2 separate regions of the Homo sapiens genome follow, and region 1 is linked to region 2. The links come from fine-mapping of genetic effects on plasma protein levels. A gene starts in region 2. The other region holds a variant in brackets. All regions are shown on one strand. Distances are from middle to middle.

Region 1 (12,947 bases), 77 kb after region 2:
ACCTTGTGATGGGGCTGGGGTTCCTGGGCTGCTGTGTTGTCACTGGGGTCTCCCTTTTGCTTCGAGGTGGGATTTCCAATCATGCAGCAAACTTTTATTGAACGCCCCCTAGGTGGTCAGGCTGGGGACTCAGACATGTGTCAGATAGGCAAGGGCCCTGCCCTCATGGAGCTTGTAATCTGGTGTGAGGATTACAAAGCATCTATTGTAAAGAATGTGTTCTAGCAGCTGAGACAAGGCCCGGTAACCTCAGTGCTGTGAAGACACCATAGCAGATGGGGCCACCTGAGCTGGGGAGATCAGAGGAGGCGTCTCAGGGGTGGTGGCCTGAGAAGAGGCATCCAGCTGGGTAATGATATTCCAGACCCGTTATTGAGTGACAGTGGGCCAGGCCCAAGGAGTGGGGCTGGTCTGGGGCTCTGCCTGCTACTGAAGCCACAGTTAGAGGGACGCTTTCGGGGGTGAGATGTGGAGATCCCCCAATAGTTATCTATTTCTGTGTAACAAAACACCCCGAACCTTAGTGGCGTAAAACAGCAAACCTGCATTCTCTCCATCTCTTGAGGGTCAGGAAACTGAGAGAAGCTTAGCTGGGTGGTTCTAGCTCAGGGTCTCCCTCCCTCTGAGGCCGGGTGGGACTTGGTTAGGGCTGGAGGATGGGCTTCCTAAACAGCTCCCTCCCATAAAATGGCATTTGGTGAGAGGCCTCGGTTGGTCACTTTGGGGCCTCTCCATGGGGCTGCTTGAGTGCCTCACATGGGATAGATGTCCTAAGCTTTTCCCCCAGAGCATATGCTCCACGAGAGGGATCGTGAGGAGACCCCGATGGAGCTGCAGTGCCTTCTTTGTGACCTCGTCTTCGAAGTCTCTCCTGCTTTATTCTAGGGGTCAGAATCGAGTCAGGGAGTCTGGCCATACTCCAGGAGAGGGAAATTAGGCTCTACCTCTTGAAAGAAAGAATCTCAAAGAATTTGAAGGTGTGTTTTTATTTTCTTAAAAAAATTTTTTTTTGAGACAGTTTCACTCTTTTTGTCCAGGCTGGAGTGCAGTGGTGTGATGTCACTGCAACCTCTGCTTCCCGGGTTCAAGTGATTCTCCTGCCTCAGCCTCCTGAGTAGCTGGGATTACAGGCACCCACCACTATACCCGGCTAATTTTTGTTTGTTTGTTTGTTTGTTTGTTTGTTTTTTAGATGAAGACTTATTCTGTTGCCCAGGCTGGAGTGCAGTGGTGTGATCTCAGCTCACTGCAACCTCCGCCTCCGGGGTTCAAGTGATTTTCCTGCCTCAGCCTCCCCAGTAGCTGGGATTACAGACGCGTGCCATCACGCCCGGCTAATTTTTTTGTGTTTTTGGTGGAGATAGGATTTCATCGTGTTAGTCAGGATGGTCTTGATCTCCGGACCTCGTGATCTGCCCGTCTCGGCCTCCCGGAGTGCTGGGGTTACAGGCGTGAGTCACTGGGCCTGGCCAATTTTCTTAAATTTTTTTTTTTTGAGATGGAGTCTTGCTCTGTCACCCAGGCTGGAGTGCAGTGGCGCGACCTTGGTTCATTGCAAGCTCCTCCTCCTGGGTTCATGCCATTCTCCTGCCTCAGCCTCCCGAATAGCTGGGATTACAGGTGCCCGTCACCATGCCCAGATAATTTTTTGTATTCTTTAGTAGAGACAGGGTTTCACTGTGTTAGCCAGGATGGTCTCAATCTCCTGACCTCGTGATCTGCCCGCCTCAGCCTCCCAAAGTGCTGGGATTACAGTCGTGAGCCACTGTGGCCGGCCAAAATTTTTAAAATTAATTTAAATTTTTTTCGAGACAGGGTCTCGCTCAGTTGCTCAGGCTGAAGTGCAGTGGTGTAATCATAGCTAGCTGCACCCTTAAACTGCTGGGCTCAGCGATCCTCCTGCCTCAGCCACCTGAGTAGTTGGAAGTACAGGCGCGCATCACCATGTGCAACTAATTTTTTTTTTTCTTTTGAGACAAGGTCTGTTGCCCACGCTGGAGTGCAGTTGTGAGATCTCAGCTCACTGCTTCCTCAACCTCCTGGGCTCAAGCGATCCTCCCACCTCAGTCTCCCAAGTAGCTGGAACTACAGGCATACGCCACCACGCCTAGCTAATTTTTTGTATTTTTTTGTAGAGACAGAATTTTGACATGTTGCCCAGGCTGTTCTCAAACTCCTAAGCTCAAGCGATCTACCCACCTCGGCCTCCCAAAGTGCTGAGGTTACAGGTGTGAGCCATGGGCTGCTAATGTTTTAAAACCTTTATTGTAGAGACTGGGTTTCACCATGTTGCCCAGGCTGGTCTCAAACTCCTAAGCTCAAGCGATCTACCCACCTCGGCCTCCCAAAGTGCTGAGGTTACAGGTGTGAGCCATGGGCTGCTAATGTTTTAAAACCTTTATTGTAGAGACTGGGTTTCACCATGTTGCCCAGGCTGGTCTCAAACTCCTAAGCTCAAGCGATCTACCCACCTCGGCCTCCCAAAGTGCTGAGGTTACAGGTGTGAGCCATGGGCTGCTAATGTTTTAAAACCTTTATTGTAGAGACTGGGTTTCACCATGTTACCCAGGCTGGTCTCAAACTCCTGGCCTCAAGCAATCCGCCCACCGCAGCCTCCCAAAATGCTGGCATGACAGGTGTGAGCCACTGTGCCTGGCCAAGTGTATTTTTTAAGCCATCACATTATGGGAGATCTGGGGGGCTGCCCCAGCTGGACTCTGCCTTTGATTAGGGTCTGAGCCGTGGCCCTTGAAGACTGCTACACTTTTCATCGTTACATTCAAATCACACTTTCAGCCAAGTTACATTTGACAGTCAAGTGCTGCAAGTGTAGAGATCTTCAGTGCACAGTGTATGCAACTGTGCAGTCACTACTTGGGTCAAAAGGTAGAGCATTGCCATCACGCCAGAAGTCGCCTCTTTTCACTTGGTACTGTCTGGAGCTAATCACTCTTGTGATATCTGTTCATTTTGTCTCTTCTTGAAGTCTGGCCCCTTTTACTCAATATCCGGCCAGTTCGTCCTTGTTATTGGATGTGGCAATGGTTCCCTCTTTTTCATTGCTGTATAGTGTTCCAGCATATGAACGTACCACAGCTTGTTTCCCACTCTTTTGTTGTTTTGTTTGGTTTTGTTTTTTGAGATGGAGTCTTGCTCTGTCGCCCAGGCTGGAGTGTAGTGGCACGATCCTGGCTAACTGCAACCTCCGTTTCTTGGGTTCAAGCGATTCTCCTGCCTCAGCCTCCAGAGTTGCTGGGATTACAGGCACCCGCCACCACGCCTGGCTAATTTTTGTATTTTAGTAGAGACGGAGTTTCACCATGTTGGCCAGGCTGGTCTCAAAATACTGACCTCAGGTGGTCTACCTGTCTCGGCCTCCCAAAGTGCTGGGATTACAAGTGTGAGCCACCATCCCGGCCCCCACTCTTTTGTTGATAGGCATTTGGGTTTCTTGTGAATAAAACTGTGCTGAACATTTTTTTTTTTTTTTTTTTTAGATATGGTCTCATTCTGTTGCCCAGGCTGGAGTGCAGTGGTGCAATCACAGCTCACTGCAGCCTCCAACTTCTGGGCTCAAACCATCCTCCCACCTCAGCCTCCTGAGTAGCTGGGACTATAGGCATGTGCCACCATGCCTGGCTAATGTTTTTAAAAATGTCTTGCAGAGACAGGGTCTCATTATGTTGCCCCAGGCTGGTCTCGAACTCCTGGGCTCAAGTGATCCTCCCACCTCCGCCTGCAAAAGTGCTAGCGCTGAGATTACAGATGTGTGCCACTGTGCCTGGCTTCCTGAACATTCTCTCCATGTCTCTGATGGACATGTGCTCTCATTTCAGGGCTGTACCTAGATAGGCCTCCAAATACTTGTCTGCCTGAGAGGATCCTCTCTCAAAGCCTGGCACACAGTAACCAAACTCACAAGAGACTGACGTATAGGTCAGAAGGCATATGTGCAGTTTGTGGTGGGGAAATATAATGGCAGTGGGTCTGAAAACTCAGGTGTGCCTGAGCAGAGCCTCCTCTCCCTATGGGAAAGCCTCATGGAAGCCAAATTGTAATCTTAGGATTGCTCAGAGCATGCGATCTTATCCAGGGCTGGTTGAGTGATTTTGGAAGCCTTGCCCTGGGCAAGGCAGGTAAGCTTCCCTGTTTGAGAAGGGTCAGCCCACCCACAAGGATCCCCTTCCCCGGGCGTTTGCTCGGTATTTCCATCTATATGCAGTGCTGAGTGCCTGCTCTGGACCCATGGAAGGATGCCCAGCCCATGGCCCAGCTTGTCCTCCAAGCTGACGGCCAAATTCAGCTTCCCCCTGGACACTCCTTTTCTTTACCTCCAGGCTGACGCTCATTTCCATGGGCCCATTCTCCCTCTAGGTATGTACATACCTTCAGGCTGGATCTTCCTGGCTGGGAGACTTTCAGTCTTTTGGGGACACTTCAGCAGTGTCTGATTTTACTAGCCAGGGGTTACTTTCTCTAATTTATTTTTATTTATTTGTTTTTTTAATTTTTTTTGAGACCGAGTTTCGCTCTTGTTGCCCAGGCTGGAGTGCAGTGGCGCAATCTCGGCTCACCACAACCTCTGCCTCCTGGGTTCAGGCAATTATCCTGCCTCAGCCTCCCGCGTAGCTGGGATTACAGGCATGCGCCCCCATGCCCGGCTAATTTTGTATTTTTAGTAGAGACGGGGTTTCTCCATGTTGGTCAGGCTGGTCTCAAACTCCTGACCTCAGGTGATCCGCCCGCCTTGGCCTCCTGAAGTGCTGGGATTACAGGAGTGAGCCACCGTGCCTGGCCTGTTTGTTTATTTATTTGAGACAGGGTCTCACTTTGTTGCCCAGGCTGGAGTGCAGTGGTGGTATCTTGGCTCACTGCAGCCTCCGCCACCCAGACTCCAGCAATCCTCCCACCTCAGCCTCTTGAGTAGCTGGGATTACAGGTGTGTGCCACTACACCGGCTAATTTTTGTATTTTTTTTTTTTTTTTTTTCTGAGACGGAGACTCGCTCTGTCACCCAGGCTGGAGTGCACTGGTGCAATCTCGGCTCGCTGCAACCTCCGCCTTCTGGGTTCAAGCGATTCTCTTGCCTCAGCCTCCTGAGTAGCTGGGATTACAGGCCTGTGCCACCACACCGGCTAATTTTTGTATTTTTAGTAGAGACAGGGTTTCACCATGTTGTTCAGGCTGGTCTCGAACTCCTGACCTCGTGATCCACCTGCCTCAGCCTCCCAAAGTGCTGGAATTACAGGTGTGAGCCCCTGCACCCGGCCTCATTTTTCTATTTTTTGCAGAGACGGGGTTTTGCAATGTTGGCCAGGCTGGTCTTGAACTCATGAGCTCAAGCAATCCACCCACCTCAGCCTCCCAAAGTGCTGGGATTACAGGCGTGAGTCACTGTGCCCGTCCTACTTTCTCTAATTGAATACCCTCAGTTTTGAGGCACTTCTTTATCCCCCCGGGAGTGCCTTTTCATCAGAAGATCATGGAAACACCCTCACTGTAAAGGCAGTTGGG[C/T]ATGAGGGACTTAGGTTGGGCCCTTGTCGGTATCTGGCGCTGTATCATCACAGGAGGGGCCTGGCTTTGGGTCCTTGTTCCAACAGCCCCTGGCAGGCAGAGCTGTGAGCCACAAAGAGCAGGGACATTGTTGTCAGATGTGGAGACGTGCTGCTGCTTCCTCGCTCTCCAAGCCTCAGTTTCCTCATCCATAAAATGGGACCAATGGCACCTGCTTGGAGGTTGTGCTGGGATCACATTAGAAACCACTTTGGGCCAGGCGTGGTGGCTCACGCCTGTAATCCCAGCACTTTAGGGGCCAAGGTGGGAGGATTGCTAGAGCCCAGGAGTTCGAGACCAGCCTGGGCAATATATCCAGACCTTGTCTCTCCTAAAAATAAAATTAAAAAAAGAAAAGAAAAGAAATGATTTTATATATCATGGCCCAGAATGGGTCCCAGCAGCCTCCCCTTCCTTGTCACCCCTCAGGCCCTCAGGCCTGTCTCCTCTCTCTGCTCTGTGCTGGCCGTGGTGACACTGGGCTCTTGTAGGCTTGTCTCACGTGCTGGGGCCCTGAGCATGCACAGCCTAAGCCATCCTCTCCTTGGTGACTCAAGGTGGGGCTGCTACGCTCCAGCCTCACACCACACTGTGCAGAAGCCAGGGCTAATTTCAGCCCCCGTGGGATTTCATCCAGAGTGGATGGCTTATCTGATTTGACTGCAGCACTGGCAAATTTTCCAGGTACCCCTGGGAGTCGGGGGGCTTCTCCCACCTGTCTTTTGGGGACGCAGCCTTGCCAATGCCCTGGTGTGGGCAGAGACAAGGGGGCAGGGTAGAGGAGAGGGGCTCCAAGGTGCTGCGTGCTCCGTCTCCCTTTTGCTCGAGCTGTGGGCTTTGACAAGACCCTGTTCTTGCGGGCCGGTGAGCGCAGGTGATTAATGCCCCTGCCACCGAGTCTAAATGCCGCTGCATTCTGGGAGCCCAGCCTTTATCAGCCCTGCCCACCTGGCATTCTCTCTGAGAGGAGCCCTGCCTTGGTGCCCCAGCCTGCCCTCACCTCTCTGAACACCATCTTGCAAAGTGCCATAAAGACACTTCTTAAAACACAGCATTGAATTCCCATTCGCCCGCTGCACTTTATGGTTCTGGTGGAGCCTGCTTCCTCCTGCTTGGCTTTCGTGCCTGGGAGCCGCTGGAAGCTTCGTCTGGGGTCAGGCCTCTCCATCAAAATTTACTGCGGACATCTTTTTACAACACCTATCTCACTGAACTGTGAAATACTCTTGCCTCTTCAAAAATGAAAGAAAATGAAAATGCATGTTTTACATCTTTTATAACAAATAAAACTCACTTGTGCTTTAAGTCTGCATTTGTCCTTCTTACAGGAGGAGGTGGGAAATGTTAGAAATTCATGGGGCAAGGCCGGGCGCGGTGGCTCACGCCTGTAATCCCAGCACTTTCGGAGGCTGAGGCAGGTGGATCATCTGAGGTCAGGAGTTCACGACCAGCTTGGGCAACATCGTGAAACCCCGTCTCTATTAAAAATACAAAAAATTAGCTGGGTGTGGTGGTGCATGCCTGTAATCCCAGCTACTCAGGAGGCTGAGGCATGAGAATTGCTTGAACCCAGGAGGCAGAGGTTGCAGTGAGCCGAGATCGTGCCACTGCACTCCAGCCTGGGTGACAGAGTGAGACTCTGTCTCAAAAAAATAAAAAAAAAACACAGAAATGCGTGGGGCATGTTCCTGGCTTAAGGCCCCTGTTTCTCCTCCAGGGGGAACAAAGAGGGGCCTGGCGGGCGAGGATTGCCGATAAGAGGACATGGAGGTGAGATGCTGAATGGGCGCAGTTGGCCTTTTCTTTCCCCATAAATCAGAAACCAGTGCAGTGTGTAGCTCTTTGGGGATCAGCCAGGCCACAGCCTTGTTCTGGTGGTGAGGACAGACATGCTGTCTGGCCTGCTGGCCTTCTGAGGCATGCACTTGGGTCCATAGACTAGAAGGGACGGGCTGACAGATGTCCTCAAGGTCGGCGCCCAGCCAGCTGGTGGCAGAGCCAGCATGCTGTCTCTGGGAAGTGGAGCAATCCTGTGGGCTTTGCTGGAGAGAAGGGGCTTTGTGGGCTGTGGATCACTCAGACCAGGCTACCATGCTTAGGGAGGGCAGTGTGGGAGCAAGTTCAGGTTCCTCTCGCTTATGTGTGACTGGGGGCAGGTCACTCTGCCTCCTCTCTAGAACAAGGTGGTGGCATCTGCCAGATGATATCTGCTAGGGCACCTGAGGTGTCTCTGGTCACGCTGGTCTAGTTCCATGGGATTCCCAGGGCCTGCCCAGCCAGAGACACTTCAGCAAGGCCTCTGGGGTCCGTCCGGGTCCCAGCCCACCAGTCCCGCCAGCATCACGGTGGGTACCTGACTTTCTGGCCACAGGTCCAGCCGTCTGGGAGTGCCCACACAGTGGCATGCCAAGGCCTCGCAGTGGGGAGGTCACAGTTGTGCAAGGTGACAAATATGGGGATTCAAATTATTTATTTAGAGACAAGGTCTCGCTCTGTTGGGCAGTCTGGAGTGCAGTGGCACAATCACAGCTCACTGAAGCCTTGACCTCCCAGGCTGAAGCGATCCTCCTGCCTCAGCCTCACAGGCAGTTGGGACTACAGGCACATGTCCACCACGCTCAGCTGATTTTTTTTTTTTTTTTTTTTTTGAGATGGAGTTTTGCTCTTGTTGCCCAGGCTGGAGTGCAATGGTGTGATCTCAGCTCACCGCAACCTCCGCCTCCCAGGTTCAAGCGATTCTCCTGCCTCAGCCTCCCGAGTAGCTGGGATTACAGGCATGTACCACCACACCCGGCTAATTTTGTATTTTTAGTAGAGATGGGGTTTCACCATGTTGGCCAGGCTGATCTCAAACTCCTGATGTCAGGTGATCCACCTGTCTCGGCCTCCCAAAATGCTGGGATTACAGGTGTGAGCCACCATGCCCGGCCGCTCAGCTGATTTTTTGTATTTTTTGGTAGAGATGGGGTTGCTCCATATTGTCCAGGCTGGTCTCGAACTCCTGGGCTCAGGTGATTGGCTTGCCTTGGTCTCCCCAAGTGCTGGGGACCCAAATAATTAGAAAAGTTCCTCCGGCTGCTGTGTCCCCAAGTTGGAAAAAAAAGTTCTCCACAATTTTGTCCTGTTTGCTTTGTTCTCTTTGGGCATTATTTAGCCGCCAGGAAGGAGTGAGTGTGTCTGGCGTGTAGACCGCACTTTGCAGCACACAGCCACCTTCTCCTTTGACCCTCCCAGCAAGCCTGGGTGTTAGCAAGGGAAGGCCTGCCTTGTCCCTATTCCAGAGATGGGAAAACCCAAGGCTTCAAACTGAGCATGGTGTTGGGAGGTCACGAACCCAAACCTGGCGGGACCTATAACAGAAGAAAAGGCGCAGCCTGGGTCTAGGCCGGCTGCCACCAGCATCTGTCCGTCCTCAGACAGGGAGGCAGACCTGGAGAGACCGACTGGCCTCACTTTCTCCACCCAAATGCTCTCTCTCTTTTTTTTCTTTTTTAATTAGGGGATCATCTCTGGCTCCCTCTTACCTCTGGGCTTTTGCACATACTGTTCCCTCTGCCTAGAAGACTCTGTACTTAGCAAACTCGCCCTCAACCTTTGGTCTTGGCTCATTTATTCCTCAGCGTGCCCCTCAGGCACCCTCAGGTGCCCACACACCGTGCCAGGTGGTGGGAATCTGATGGCAAACACAGCAGATCCCCTATGGAACCTACAGGTCAAGATGGCCAAGATCAAGAAAGGGGGCCGGCGCCGTGGCTCACGCCTGTAATTCCAGCACTTCGGGAGGCTGACATGGGTGGATTGCTTGAGGTCAGGAGTTCAAGTCCAGCCTGGCCAACATGGTGAAACCCCATCTCTATTAAAATACAAAAATTAGTTGGGTGTGCTGGCACACGCGTGTAATCCCAGCTACTAGGGAGGCTGAGGCAGGAGAATTGCTTGAATCCAGGAGTGCAGGTTGCAGTGAGCCAAGATCGTGCCACTGCACTCCAGCCTGGGCGACAGAGTGAGACTCCGTCTCAAAAAAAAATAAAAGAATAAGTGTAAACAAAAGCAAACTATCCCATATCCTGCAGAGCACAGCAGGTACAAAGGGCCTGGGGCAGGAAGCAGCCTGGCTGTTTGGGGAACTGGTGTAGTGGGGGAGGCAGCATTGGGAGTGAGGTGGGAGAGAGGCCAGAGGACCGGCGTTTGAATGCAGTTTTGAACAGAGGAGGGATGGCACCTGATTTATGTTCCCAGGATCCATGGCTGCCGGTCAAGGAACAGATGGGGATGAGATGCACACGGAGATCAGCTGGGAGTTGGGAGCGTCTGTGGGATCTAGGGAGCCATGAGGAAGGCTCAGTCCTGGAGGGTGAGAGGAAGGCTTGGTTTCTAGGGTGTCACGGGGATCAATCCAAAAGAGGATGGAAAGGGAGGGACCCCTGGTGCAGGGTCTCGAGTAAAAAAGAGGGAAGAATGGAGCAACAAAAAAATGACGTTTTGGGGGAAAGAGTCAAACGTTCTGTTTTGCATGCCTGGGCTTTGGGGAATGAGAGCAGGCAGGCACTGTGGGGGTCAGAGGCTCAGAAGAGAGTGGAGGGACAGCCCCGGAGGTTGCTTGCTTAAAGAGCGTTTTGAATCTGTGCAACTGATTAGAAGACCTAGGGAGGAAAGCAGCAAGGACACTTCCTGTCCACAGGGAAGGCAGGAGGGGCCGCTGCATGGGGTGTGGTGACCTTGACCTTGTTGGAAGGAGGGACCAGACTGGGTGGACTGAAGGGAGCATGGGAGGGAAGAAGTGGAGACAGCAGAGGAGGGGGCAGCTGCAGGGGCGTGGAATGCGGGCGTTGAGGGAGGGGACGGGATTATTTGAGGGCAGGCAGGACAGCCTGGTGGAGGGGGACCTGCAGCAGTGAGTCCTCTGGGAGGTGGGCTTGGCAGGTGGCAGCGCTGGTACTGAATGCAGGACCTACTCGTGCCCAAACATGTTTATGGAAGAGGGGGCAGAAGTGGCTGCCAGGAAAGGTGGCTCTGGCTTGAGCAGCAGTGGGGGCTGACCAGGGGTGGGCCTAGCCTTTTGTGATGACCCCACCTTTGCATCCAGCAGGGACTCTGGACTGGGCCCCTTGCATGAGTTCTGTCATCTAATGCTCTCAGCATCCTTGGGTTGTTATCACCCCTGCCAGCAGTGGTTAGATGAGGAGATGGAGGCCTGGATGATGAAGTGACTCTGGCCGGGAAAACACCCTGCTGTGTGAGGGTGGCCTCCCAACCTCCCTGAACATTTGTGGAGGGACCTACCTGTCCCCCTCACTGCCATGTGCATAGAAGCTTCCAGGCTGCAGTCCTTCCTTTCTCACCACCTCCTCTAATTGCTCTCCCGCCTCTACATATTTTTTGATGCTTTTTGAGTTTCTCAATTGTAGCCTTTGCTGTTTGCCGTGGGGGCTGCCCCATCCCGGGAGCCTGTGGTCCAGGGTGCCAGGCTGGGCTGAGCGCCTGGGTGTGCAGGCGGCCTCGGGCCAGCAGGGGGAGCCCGTGAGCTGCTAGCCTGGCCTGGCGCGGTCGGGGCGGGCCCTTCTGAGACGGGTTCCAGGTTTCTGTGCCTGGTGCCACCCCCAAGGGAAGGCGGAGCCCATGGGACAGTGCTCAGGCAAGGGGAGCCGGCCAGGGTGGACCCCGAGTCTGTGAGCGGGTGGGGGGTGCCTGGCTCCTCACTCAAGTCCCTGCTGTGTGAGGGTGGCCTCCCAACCTCCCTGAGCCCCGGTTTCCTCATCTGTAAAACGAGAACGATTCCAACCCCATTGGTCATGCTGGGAGCCCTCAGCCGCTGCCGGGGGGGATGTTGGGGACAGGTGCCAGGTCCACTTGGTCCTGCAGCTCCTGGAGGAGGACAGCTGTCCCGCTGCCTGCATGCAGTGACAGTGAGGGCAGAACTGACTGGCGGTGGGACTGATGGATAATGTCGCTGGCTGAGTGCTGCCAACCGGCTTGGCCTTAGTGTGTGGGAGGAAGCTCGGAGCTGTTCTGCAGGGGACGTCTTCACCCCCGTTCTAATCAGGGAGAAACGGGGGACCCAGAGAGATGTGGACGCTGCTGGAAAGTGGCAGAGCTGAATTCATCACAACCCAGGTCTGCGATGCCTGAGCCAGTCCCTCAGCCTCCCCAGACCTCAGTTTCCCTCCCTGAACAAAGAGAGCAGGACAAGATATTCTAGGGGCCTCTGAGGTTTCCCCAGCATGCCTGCCCTGTGTGCCCAGAGAAGGAGGGACAGGAAGAGCTGGTTTGCATTCTTGGATGAGGCAAGAAAGGAGATGTGGGGGTGCAAGCCCCAGGCCCGTTCCTCTGCCCCCACCCTGATCCTCCTTCCTGCCTCTGCAGCCTTTCTGAAGGGCCTGAGTGACAAGCAGCGGGAGGAACATTACTTCTGCAAGGACTTTGTCAGGCTGAAGAAGATCCCGACATGGAAGGAGATGGCGAAAGGTAGGCCCTGCTCGGGGGAGGCCCTGGTGGGCAGGCTCCAGACCCGTGGCTTGGGAGAATTGTGCAGACAAGAAGAGCTAGTCCAGTGGCATGTATCGAGTGCTTGCTGCAGGCAGGTGCTCCGCGTGTATCACCTCATTCAATTATTTTATTTTATTTTTTGAGATGGAATTTCACTCTTTTTGCGCAGGCTGGAGTGCAATGGCTCGATCTTGGCTCACTGCAACCTCCACCTCCCGGGTTCAAGCGATTCTCCTGCCTCAGCCTCCTGAGTAGCTGGGATTACAGACATGCACCACCATGCCTGGATAATTTTTGTATTTTTAGTAGAGATGGGGTTTCACCATATTGGCCAGGCTGGTCTCGAACTACTGACCTCAAGTGATCTGCCCGCCACGGCCTCCCAAAGTGCTGGGATTACAGGCGTCAGCAACTGCGCCTGGCCATCTCATTCAATTATTAACACAACAAGTGCAATTTTTATCCCCATTGTATGGTTGGAAACAGAGCCCTAGGTTAGGTGAGCCACCTGCCCGAGATTACTTGCTTGTGGGGAGCTGGGGTTTGAAGCTGCGATTTGGTTGCTTACAGTGGGGTGTGTTGGTGAGACAGCAGGCCTGGTGACCCATAACCCTAGGCAAGTCTCTGACCCACCTAATCCTCAGTTTCTACCTCTGTGAAATGGGATAGATGATATTGGCACTGTACCTGCTGGTGGCCTTGCTGTGAAGATGCAAGGAGTCCCCGCGTGATTTTAGCACGCAGTAGGTGCTCCTCAGTGTGGGTTCCTGGTACTGGGTCAGCAGTCATCGTGCTGCAGGCTGCCCCTGGAGGTGGAGGGAGGTCGATAGGGAAGGCCCTGGCCCCTGGGCCCTGGCTGGGTCCCTCTGCAGTGGGCAGCCTCGCTGTGACCTCCCCGGCCCCTACTT
Region 2 (4,709 bases):
TGGGATTACAGGCACCTGCCACCATGCGCGGCTAATTTTTGTATTTTTTTTTAGTAGAGATGGGGTTTCACCATGTTGGCCAGGCTGGTCTCAAACGCCTTACCTCAGGTGATCTGCCTGCCTGGGCCTCCCAAAGTGCTGGGATTATAGGTGTGAGCCACTACCCCCGGCCCAAGCATCCTACTTTGTTGCCCCAGATCCAAGGCCTACCCTTGGCTCTACTCTTTTTTTTTTTTTTTTTTTTTTTTTTTTGTGGCAGAGTCTTGCTCTGTCGCCCAGGCTGGAATGCAGTGGCACGATCTTGGCTCACTGCAAGCTACGCCTCCCAGGTTCATGCCATTCTCCTGCCTCAGCCTCCGGAGTAGCTGGGACTACAGGTGCCCGCCACCACGCCCGGCTAATTTTTTGTATTTTTTTAGTAGAGACAGGTTTTTACCATGTTAGCCAGGATGGTCTCGATCTCCTGACCTCATGATCCGCCCGCCTCGGCCTCCCAAAGTGCTGGGATTACAGGCGTGAGCTACCACGCCCGGCCCCTTGGTTCTACTCTTAGGAACCTGGTCCCCAGTTCTGTGGACCACCATACCCAGCACCCCCCAAGCCTGGCCTCTGCGAGCTCAGAAGTTGGGCCTGGCTGGCACCTGCATTCACACTGGCTGTGTTCTTCCAGGGACATCTCCCCCAGCTGACTGCTCGGGTACCGGATCATGAGGATCTGTGCTCAGGAGAAGAACAGGGGGGACAGTGAGGGAGAGAGAGAAAGGGGATGCTCTAAGACTGAAGGGAGAAAAGCTCACCCAACAGCCGGGAGGCTGGCCACCAGCCCTCCCCCCAACCCTGTCTCCTGTGCATCAGTCTCCAGGCTGCCCCAGCCCCAGAGCCAGCCAGCATCCACCCTGCCCGCTGCCCCACCTGCCCAGTACCTGCATCCCCTGCCCGTTGCCCCACCTGCCCAGTACCTGCATCCGGACTTGGTGCTGCCCAGTGGGCACACACTCCAGGCCATCGTCAGGGCAGCAGCCACCACAGCGCTGCACAGTCACGCAGCTGGGCACCAGCTGTTTGGCCACGGTGCCCATGAGCTCCACAGTCAAGGGCACCACCACCTCCCGGGGCTGGCAGGTAGCGCGAGTATACACATCTATCCATGACACCACTGGGAGCAGACCGGTAGGGGTTAAGTCCTCACTGGTTTTCCTGCAGCTGCTCCCAGCATCTGTCCTCCCCAGTCCCCAAGTCACAGCCACCCTCCACTAGCCCTCCCCACTCTGCCCTCACAACCTGTCTTCCCCTGCCCTGTTTATCCAGATCCCAGTAACCCCACTGCCTCAATTTCCTCCTCTGTGAAATGGGTAGAATAATAGTTTGAATCTTCTAGGGGAGTTACACAAGATGATGGACACCTGGAATCAGGGCCCATGACAAACCCTCTTAGTGCTGGCTAGTGCCGAGTTTTTGTAAGTATTACCTTTCCTCTGGTGGCCAGGGGCATCAGGCTGGGAGACAGGGGCCTGTGGGAGAGAAAAGACCTGTACCCAAGGTACACTTTAGGAGGGTGTGGCCCTGTCACCGTCCCTGGGGCTTTGCCCTTGCATCAGTAGGCTTCACCACCTCTCTGACATCTTTCCAGATTGCTCTGTTCCTGCGGCCACTGCTCTAGCTTTACCTGTCCTCTCCTGGCCACCCGGGACCTGCCCTGGCCCAAAACGCAACAGGTGCTCTGGTGGCCGCGCCAAATCTCCAGGCCGCGGAGCCGAGCATGTTTGGGGGCTGCATGCAGATCAGGAGCGCGCACAGTGCCCACCGAAGCAGGTCCTGCAGGCACCGAGGGAGCCCCGCCCCCGGCGGTGCCCAGGGGACGGGGTGGGGCGGAGGAGTGGCCCCAGACTGGGGCTGGCGGGCCAGCGGGGAGGGGCACCTCCCAGGGGATGCACGCGCCGGGCCCCCGAGACGCCCGCGTCCAAGGCCGGACCCCGCAGATCCCCTCGGCCGAGGCCGCGGGTCGCCTCCTCACTTCCGCCAACCTTGAGAGAGGGCACGGCGGGCGGGCGGGCGCGCTGTCGGGCCGCACGTACCTGGGCGGGGGCCAGCTGCAGGAGTGCGGCGAGCAGCAGGCGGCGGAGCAGAGGGCTCATGGTGCCCGCCGGGGCCGCCCGCCGGGGGCGCCCGCATCGCCCTAGCCCGGCGGCGCGGGGGGCGGCGACAGCCAGAGCCCCATGGCGCGGGCCCGGGCGCGGCGGGCGGGGGCCGGGCGCGGGGGGCGACTCCTCCGCGGCCCCCTCCCGAGCCCTGGGTGCAGGCAGCGCAGCGCAGCGCAGCGGAGGCGGCCGGAGGAGCCGGGCGGGCGGGCGGCCGGTGGCGGCGGGCAGCGGCGGCGGGGACGGCGGGGGCGGCGGGGGGCTGGGCCCGGGCTGGCGGGCAGGCGGCTCATGTGACCCAGACACGCGCTCCCCACCGGCCCGTGGGGCGGGGGCGGGGCGGCGGGGTGGGGGGGCGAGGCCGTCGGCGGGGCCCGCCTCCTCCACACACCCCCTCCCGCCTCCCGCCGCGGCAGGGGAAAGGGGACGCACCGCCCAGGAGGCTGGGCTCCCCAGTCGCCGCCGCCACTACCCGGAGGGCGGGGCGCTGCCCCTTGGCGAGGCCGGGGCCGGGGGCGTCGGGCCTTAAGGAGGGAGCCGGACACGAGCTCTGCGAATCACTTTATTGCGCGCGTTTCGGGGAGCGGGCCGTCCAGGGAAGGAAGCAAAGCGGGAACGCACTGCAGGCCCCATCCAGGTGAGCCCCTCAGGGGCCGGCGCCCCGGGGCACGATCTCGGGGCCTTGGGTTGGCTCGGATGGTGGCGGCTGCCGCTGCCCTAGCCGTTGTCGCTCCTGCTGAAGGATGCCTCTGTTGGCCCTGGAGGAGAGGGCACCTGGGTGGTTGGGATAGGGATCCCGAAGTGTGGTTCCTGGACAGGGAGCAGGGAGCAGAATAGAGCAGGGACAGACCTGGCCCGTGCCCGGGCTTCGTTGTAGAAGGCTGTGATGATCCGATCCTTTTCATCCATGAAGTTAAGGTGCATCTGCTTCACCTTCCTGCAATGGGTCACAATTAACCCTGGGAATCCAATTCCTGCTGTCCCTGAAGTCCTGCCCCCTTCCACCCCACTCTAGGGGCCTCACAGCTTTTTACCCTTACACAGGGTTAGGAACCTCAGTCTAACCCTTCCTGTGATAGATAGGGAGGGCTCAGAGTGGCCCTGGCTTGTCTAGGGTCCAATGGCATCCGAAGTCCCTGGTCACTTTGAGGTGTGACAGCAGCTGTGGACATGGGGGTGCTCCTCCCAGAAGACTAGAAAGGGTATGCGTCTAACTCCATCACTGAACTAGGCAGGCTGCTAGCAGTGGGCACTGGCCTTTAGGTATCTGCTATAGAAAATCGGCTTTGTGGCCAGGCGCGGTAGCTCTCACCTGTAATCCCAGTACTTTGGGAGGCTGAGGCGGGTGGATCACCTGAGGTCAGGAGTTTGAGACCAGCCTGGCCAATATGGTGAAACCCCATCTCTACTAAAAATACAAAACAACTAGCCGGGTGTGGTGGTGGACGCCTGTAGTCCCAGCTACTCGGGAGGCTGAGACAGAAGAATTGCTTGAACCTGGGAGGCAGAGGTGGGGTTGCAGTGAGCCGAGATTGCGCCACTGCACTGCAGCCTGGGCAACAGAGTGAGACTCCATCTCAAAGAAAAAAAAAAGAAAAAAAGAGAATAAAGAGAATCAGCTCCGTGGCACGCGTGAGAGTGGCAGGGAGATGCCTACTGCCAAATGAATGAGCTGTGCTGCATTTGCTGCTTGTGCTTGATTTTGTTTGGCTCAATCCCTTCCTGGCAGCCAGCATGAAAGATTTACATTCGAAATATGAAAAACTGTAAATGACAACGTTAGCTCTTGGTGCAGCGCTGCCTTTAATAAGTAAGGAGAGGCTCCAGAGACCAACTTCAAGCAGCTCTTAGCTTGAGAGACACAAGAGTACGGGCCACGAGGTGCTGTGGAGGACTGGCTGACCACACTGGAATTCACCCACCCTCCTGCCCTCTGCCCATCACCCCGGGGAGAACAGGCATCACCTGAAGGCAATGTAGTGCAGGCCCATGCCCGCCAGCATGAGGAGGAGGCAGTACCCCAGCACTTGTTTGTTTTGTTTGTGTTGCTGCTGCCTCAACTGGGGCCCCTGTGGCCTCACGCTGTGAAACTGGGACCAGTACTGTGCGTTGGGGGGTGTCCAGGAGCTGCTGGGAGGCAGAGGAAGGGACATTGTGGAAATGAGACTACCCAAGAGACCTGGGGGTGGGGCAAGCTGAGGGCAGGATTACTGTACCTGTGTGTTTGGTGGGCAGACTTGTCATGGACTGTGGTTCGTGGAGACTTTGGGGGACTACCTGAGCGGAGCTGGTCATCATAGCTGCGGCGGCTCTGCTCACGGCTGAGCACACGGTATGCCTCGCTCAGCTCCACAAAGCGGCTGTGCAGGCTTGGGTTCCCAGGGTCCCGGTCTGGGTGCAGCTGGGGTGGGGCAGGACTCCCCTTATCTCCCTTTGCCTGTCCCTCCCCAGGACCCATGCTGATGACATCCACCCACCAGGGCTCCAGTCATACCCAGAGGCCCTGCCTGGTCAGTGACCCTCACTCAGGCCTGCCCACTCCTCAGAAGGCCAGAGAGCATGGACTCCTGC

Which allele goes with the higher level. Alleles are on the strand shown, and positions count from the first base shown. The strength of an association depends on the size of the effect and on how common the allele is.
For the plasma level of the protein whose gene starts at base 2,385 in region 2, C is the low allele of the variant in region 1 and T is the other (weak association).

What was found. PIP is the chance, under the fine-mapping model, that this variant and not a neighbour inherited with it causes the effect. The UK Biobank Pharma Proteomics Project read protein levels with antibody pairs (Olink). The fine-mapping took linkage between variants from a reference panel, not from the people measured, so its PIPs are less certain.
Region 1: its variant is fine-mapped to the plasma level of the VEGFB protein (UK Biobank, PIP above 0.99).

Annotation. Positions count from the first base shown.
Region 1 is chr11:64,151,363-64,164,309 of GRCh38, reverse strand. It overlaps MACROD1 (mono-ADP ribosylhydrolase 1), which reads left to right. Exons shown (of 11, transcript NM_014067.4): 2 at 11,917-12,018. Among named protein-coding and RNA genes, the nearest start is that of MACROD1, 8.3 kb to the left of the region's middle. RefSeq lists enhancers at 9,936-10,930, 10,931-11,926 and a silencer at 10,970-11,189. The variant C/T (reference allele first, on the strand shown) is at 5,515.
Region 2 is chr11:64,232,260-64,236,968 of GRCh38, reverse strand. It overlaps VEGFB (vascular endothelial growth factor B), which reads right to left and starts at 2,385. Exons shown (of 7, transcript NM_003377.5): 1 at 2,076-2,385; 2 at 1,469-1,511; 3 at 960-1,156; 4 at 642-715. The coding sequence starts at 2,135. It overlaps DNAJC4 (DnaJ heat shock protein family (Hsp40) member C4), which reads right to left. Exons shown (of 6, transcript NM_005528.4): 3 at 4,355-4,539; 4 at 4,104-4,265; 5 at 2,989-3,075; 6 at 2,688-2,896. The coding sequence ends at 2,785. RefSeq lists silencers at 1,758-2,127, 2,348-2,837.